Regions from separate parts of the Homo sapiens genome. Here region 1 is reported to be linked to region 2. Evidence: microRNA targets listed by miRTarBase, many of them from high-throughput screens and not tested one by one. Region 2 holds a microRNA gene; the other region holds the end of a gene's coding sequence.
The links. The annotated mature microRNA hsa-miR-3944-3p reads UUCGGGCUGGCCUGCUGCUCCGG and lies in region 2 at 2,089-2,111, shown strand. An mRNA with a match to its seed (bases 2 to 7 or 8) in the 3' UTR can be bound and repressed. Matches are read on the target gene's strand: a 7mer-m8 pairs with bases 2 to 8, a 7mer-A1 pairs with bases 2 to 7 and ends in A, and an 8mer does both.

Region 1 (3,000 bases), not on the chromosome of region 2:
ACATCGGTGTGTACAGCGTCTACTGGTACCAGCAGAGGCCGGGCCACCCTCCCAGGTTCCTGCTGAGATATTTCTCACAATCAGACAAGAGCCAGGGCCCCCAGGTCCCCCCTCGCTTCTCTGGATCCAAAGATGTGGCCAGGAACAGGGGGTATTTGAGCATCTCTGAGCTGCAGCCTGAGGACGAGGCTATGTATTACTGTGCTATGGGGGCCCGCAGCTCGGAGAAGGAGGAGAGGGAGAGGGAGTGGGAGGAAGAAATGGAACCCACTGCAGCCAGGACACGTGTCCCTTGAACTGAAGACAGCAGAGGCACGCATCCCCTTGGAGAGACTGTCATGGAAGAGGGTGGAGTCGCCGCCCGAAGCGCCGAGGAGGCTGAGCCACTCAGCATCTCCTGGTCCTGCAGTGTTGCTGTAAATCCCCATTGGAGACTGCATTAGGGAATTAAAGCTGCTTGTCACTTTTTGCTGAGTTTGGTCTGACTGTTGTGCGACTTCGTAGTACCAGCCTTGGGCAAAGGCCCGGGGCCCCGGGAGACTGGCAGATCACTGTGGTGAGCACTCACCTGAGTCCTTACTTTTGTGGGCCATGGGAGGCAAGGGGTTGACCGAAGCACCCTGGAGGGGCATCCATGCCCAGGACAGGACCCTCTGGTGTCATCTGATTCTGCCCAGCGGTTACAGGGCAAACAAGCTTAGAAAGCACCTGGTCTGGGCCTCCAGGGAGAACAGGAGCCAGGTAATAGGCCTAGAGTGGGTTCTCCACCTTGGTCCTATCGACGTTTTGGGCTGGACAGTTCTTGGTTGTGGGGCTGTCCTGCGGATTGTTGAATGGTGAGTGGTTATCTGTGGCCTCTACCCACCAGATGCCCCTTCCCAGTTGTGACAAACAAAAATGTCTCCAGACATTGCCAAATGTCCCCAGGTGGTAAACTCACACTGATTGTGAACCACTGGTCTAGATGAGCAAGTAAATGCATTTACTTATTTGTACAAGAGAGTGGCAGGTGTCGGCAAACATGTTCTTTTTTTCCTTTTTTTAGGGATAAAGTCTTGCTCTGTGGTCCAGGCTGGAGTGCAGTGGTGCAATCATAGCTCACCGCAGCTTCAAACTCCCAGGCTCAAGTGATTGTCCTGTCTCAGCCTCCTGAGCAGCTGAGACTACAGGCGTGCATCACCATGCTTGGCTATTTATTTAGTTTTATTTTTGGAGAGATGAATGTCTCACTATGTTGCTCAAGCTGATCTCAAACTCCTGAGCTCGAGTGATCCCCCTGCTTGGGCCTCCTAAAGTGCTGGGATTAGAGGCGTGAGCCACTGCACCCAGCCCATTTTCTATAAAGAGCCAGGTGGTAAATATTTTTGGCTTTGTGGGCTATGCGATCTCTGTCACAACTGTTCAATTCTGTCCTAGTAGCAAGAAAGCAGCCACAGACAAACATGTCAACAAAGAGGCATGGCTGTGTTCTTATAAAGCTGTATTTACAGAAACAGATGGGGCTACACTGGGCTGGGTATGGCGCCCAGGCTGTAGTTTGCTGAGCCCTGCTCGGGAGCACTCCAGCTCCTGTCTCCAGGTTTTAAGCAAGCCATGCTTGGTGGGATAATCAGAGTCCCCCCTCAACTTATCTTGCCTGTGACCCCAGGCAGAAGCCTCTGGACCCATGGAGATACCTAGAGGCATGAAGGACGTGGTCTCACTGAGACTGTGTTGGACTGTCTGGGTGAAGTAGCAATGGGGAGCTCCCTGCAGCCCCGGCCCACAGCAAGGCCCCCTGAGCCCGTGGGTGGTGGGTCTGAGTGTGCCTTGCGGAGAGGGACTCTCTACATTGGGTGTTCACACAACCTGTAGACATGCCTCACTCAGAGAGGTGCCGGGCAAACCATCTCCCTTGTAACCCCAACTTGCCTGGGAACGTGCATTCACCCCAGCTAAAAAGATCCTGAGGCATCTCCCCAGAGAGGTGGACACATGTCAGTATCAGCGTTCCATGTGTGGTCATGAGTCCCTCTCTTGTTAAACAGTGGTCTCCAGCACTTTGGGAGGCCGAGGCGGGTGGATCACCTGAGGTCAGGAGTTAGAGACCAGCCTACCCAACATGGTGAAATCTCATCTCTACTAAAAATACAAAAATTAGCTGGGTGTGTTGGCACATGCCCGTAATCCCAGCTACTTGGGAGGCTGAGGCAGGAGAATTGCTTGAACCCAGGAGGCAGAGGTTGCAGTGAGCCGAGATCATGCCACTGCACTCCAGCCTGGGTGACAGAGCGAGACTCCATCTCACAAAAAAAAAAAAAAAAAAAAAAAGAGACAGTGATCTCAGCTTATGCCATACTCTATGCACTGGGTTCTTCCTGCATCAGGCTTTTACCCCTGGGCCAGGCCCACATTTTAAAACATTATTATTTACTTGTTTATTATTTTATTTTAGAGATAGGATCTTGCTATGCTGCCCAGGCTGGACTGCTGTGGCTATTCACAGGTTCAATTCATGATGCTCTACAGCCTTGAACTCCTGGGCTCCAGCGATCCTCCTGTCTCAGCCTGCTGAGTGGCTGAACTACACGTGTGAGTCACTGCACCTGGCCATGGCCCACAGTTTTAAAGACCAGCTAGATGGTTCCAGAGGAACTCTGTCTTCTGCTTGTAACCCGTCCCTCTCTTGCCTCCATCCTTCATGATTCTGGGATTCCATGCTATGAGAAGAGATCTAGAAAGCCGGGAGCTGAGTTGGACTCCTGTATCATCCTCATGCCCCCACCCCACCAGCTCAATGGAAAATGAGACCTGGAACTCAGGCTTGAGGCCAGACTGAGTGTGAGTCTTAGCTCTGGAGGAGTCACTTAAAATCTAAGCCAACATTTCCAATGTTGCATGTAAAGGGGATAATCATAGAACTGATTAACTTATATAAAAAGTTTTTATCTGGCCAGGCGTGGTGGCTCATGCCTGTAATCCCAGCACTTTGGGAGGCCGAGGCGGGCAGATCACCTAAGG
Region 2 (3,128 bases):
CGGCGCAGAGCCCGGCAGGCGCCGCCGTTGCCTCCGCCTCCGCGCGGTCTCCCCGGGGCCAGCTGGGACCCCGAGGGCTGGGGCGGGGGCGGGGGCGCGGGCGACTGCGGCGGGGCCTGGAGGGCGCTGGTCCCAGCCCAGGGCGGGGTCCCGGGGACGCCCCTCGGCCTTAGATCCGCGAGCGGCAGCTCGGGCCTGGGGGCGGGGCCTGGCGGAGAGCGACCCGCTCACTCTGCCCGGGCTGATCTCGCGAGGGCCGCCTGGTCTCGCGGCGCTGGCCTGTGGGCGGAGCGAGCCCTGAAAGGCTATAGGCGAGGGGGCGGCTCCGCGGGGCCGGGCGAGGAGTCCAGAGAGCCATGGCCGCCCTGCGTGTCCTGCTGTCCTGCGTCCGCGGCCCGCTGAGGCCCCCGGTTCGCTGTCCCGCCTGGCGTCCCTTCGCCTCGGGTGAGTGCGCGGTGAGAGCTGGCGGCCCGAATCTCCTCCTGACTCCGACCTGCACGCCCAGACCAGATCCCAGACCGCACCCCCCTCCCACCTGACCCCGCATCCCCCACCTGACCCCAACCCACACCCCTCTTCCGCCTGACCCCGCACCCTCACCTGACCCCTACCCGCACCCCACTCCGCCTGACCCCGCACCCCCCCGCCTGACCCCGCACCCCCCCACCTGACCCCGCACCCTCCGGCCTGACCCCTACCCGCACCCCACTCCGCCTGACCCCGCACCCCCCCACCTGACCCCGCACCCCCCGGCCTGACCCCGCACCCCTCTTCCGTCCGATCCCGCATCCCCAGGGCCTGACTCCGCACTCTCCTGCCTGACCCCGCACCTACCACCTGACCCCGACCCGCAGCCCCTGCCTGGCTCAGGCCTGCAACACCCCCCTCGCCTAGTGCTGCACCCCCCACCTGACCCGCACCCACAGCCTGACCCAGGCTTAACACCCCCCCACCACCCGCCACCCCGCACCGACACCACCCACCTGACCCTGGCCCGCACCCCCACCCCCTGCCTGGCTCTGCAGGAGGCCACTCTCACCAGGCCACGTCCTGCGGGAGGCCCGGCGGCTGGCTGGTACTGCCCCAGTGCCAAGACCTCTGGCCAACTGGGCGCAGGGTGGGGGTTGTAAAAATCCGGGGTGTTCCCTCGGCTCTAAGAGCAGGCGTAGCTCCTGTGCAGCCGGCCAGCCCGAGAACAGGAGATGCAGGTGCATTTTGTCCTGGGTGCCTCCTGACCAGGGCCACCCCTCAGAGGGTCCTAAGGGAAAAGCTGACACCTCCTCCCCAGCCACAGGGGGCTGCCCTCTTCCTCCCTCGTGGCTCACCCGGGGCCCCACTCATGAGCGGCCATCACCGGCTCTAGTATCTGAGGAATCTTGGGCCATGCCTTGGGCTGGGGAAGAACTCTTGCTTCCTCTTCCTCCCTCACCCTGTGTAGCAGTGGACCACTGAGTTGTGTTGGTTTCATCTCCATGCTCTCCTTGGCCTTCGGCTTCTCCACCCTGACAGCAGCCCTTTCCTGGATCTTGCATGGCGGGCACTGCTGCCAGACACTTCACCTGTGATCTTCCAGTTACCCCTAGAAACCCACAGGATACGGCGGGGCACAGTGGCTAATGCCTATAATCCCAGCACTTTGGGAGGCTGAGGCAGGTGGATCACCTGAGGTCATCAAGACCACCTTGGCCAACATGGTGAAACCCCATGTCTACTAAAAATACAAAAATTAGCCAGGTGTGGTGGTGTGTGACCGTAGTCCCAGCTACTCGGGAGGCTGAGGCAGGAGAATCACCTGAACCCTGTAGGCAGAGGTCGCAGTGAGCCAAGATTGCGCCACTGCACTCCAGCCTGGGCAATAGAGTGAGACTCGGTCTCCAAAAAAAAGAAACCCATAGCACAGGGACTATGATCCCTGCTCTGCCACTAACGGAGGCAAGCATCCAACACACAGGCTACCTTTGTCTTTTCAGGTTCACCTTCTCACCCCTGGAACGCCATTGTCCTTTGTCTCCTTCCCACCTTGCTGTCCACCCAGCAGGCGCAGGTCCTGTGCAGCAGGCCAACCGAGAAGCGCCTGCGTCTCCCATTTTCGGGCTGGCCTGCTGCTCCGGACCTGTGCCTGATCTTAATGCTGCAGGAACACCCAGGATTTTCACATCCCCCACCCTGCGTCCAGTTGGCCAGAGGTCTTGGCACTGGGGCGGTACCAAGTGCAAGGAGCTGCCTTACACCCCCTCACCTGTTGGCATTTGTTGAAAGAAGGTGTTTCCTGGTGCCTTGTCTCAGCAGAGTCCAGGGCTGTCTCCAGAGTGGTGTCCTGGGAAGAGCTGACCAAGGCATATTAGGAGAAGGAAAGCGGCTGTGGGCTGTGTTCTGTGCTGGGGATTTTTCTTTTTTTCTTTTCTTTTTTTTTGAGACGGAGTCTCACTCTGTCACCCAGGCTGGAGTGCAGTGGCATGATCTCAGCTCACTGCAAGCTCCACCTCCTGGGTTCATGCCACTCTCCTGCCTCAGCCTCCCCAGTAGCTGGGACTACAGGCGCCCGCCACAACACCCGACTAATTTTTTGTATTTTAGGTAGAGACGGCGTTTCACCGTGTTAGCCAGGATGGTCTCGATCTCCTGACCTTGTGATTCGACCGCTTCGGCCTCCCAAATTGCTGGGATTACAGGCGTGAGCCACCGCGCCCGGCCCGGGGATTTTCTTTAGGACATGTTCAAACACATGTGAAAGCAGAGAGAATGGTACCAAGGCTACCATCTATCCTTGTGGCTGAGAGCTACACCTGGAGCCACTGAGGACTCGGCAGGGAGCCCTCAGAGGGCCTCTTGGGGTCACACTGTATCCACCGATGGGGCCACATCCCTTCCCCCACTCTCCCCAGTTTGATACCTGTGTGAATAGATACCCCTTTTTGCCTTCTTGCTCCAGGTGCTAACTTTGAGTACATCATCGCAGAAAAAAGAGGGAAGAATAACACCGTGGGGTTGATCCAACTGAACCGCCCCAAGGCCCTCAATGCACTTTGCGATGGCCTGATTGACGAGCTCAACCAGGCCCTGAAGACCTTCGAGGAGGACCCGGCCGTGGGGGCCATTGTCCTCACCGGCGGGGATAAGGCCTTTGC

Region 1: the mRNA of VPREB1 is a reported target of hsa-miR-3944-3p. Seed matches in the 3' UTR shown: 7mer-A1 at 360-366.

What each region holds. Positions count from the first base shown.
Region 1 is chr22:22,245,042-22,248,041 of GRCh38, forward strand. VPREB1 (V-set pre-B cell surrogate light chain 1) reads left to right here. Exons shown (of 2, transcript NM_007128.4): 2 at 1-474. The coding sequence ends at 296. It also overlaps IGL. Among named protein-coding and RNA genes, the nearest start is that of VPREB1, 1.8 kb to the left of the region's middle.
Region 2 is chr10:133,370,562-133,373,689 of GRCh38, reverse strand. MIR3944 (microRNA 3944) reads left to right here and starts at 2,027; the gene lies at 2,027-2,134. ECHS1 (enoyl-CoA hydratase, short chain 1) reads left to right here and starts at 336. Exons shown (of 8, transcript NM_004092.4): 1 at 336-444; 2 at 2,933-3,128. The coding sequence starts at 357. RefSeq lists a silencer at 64-573.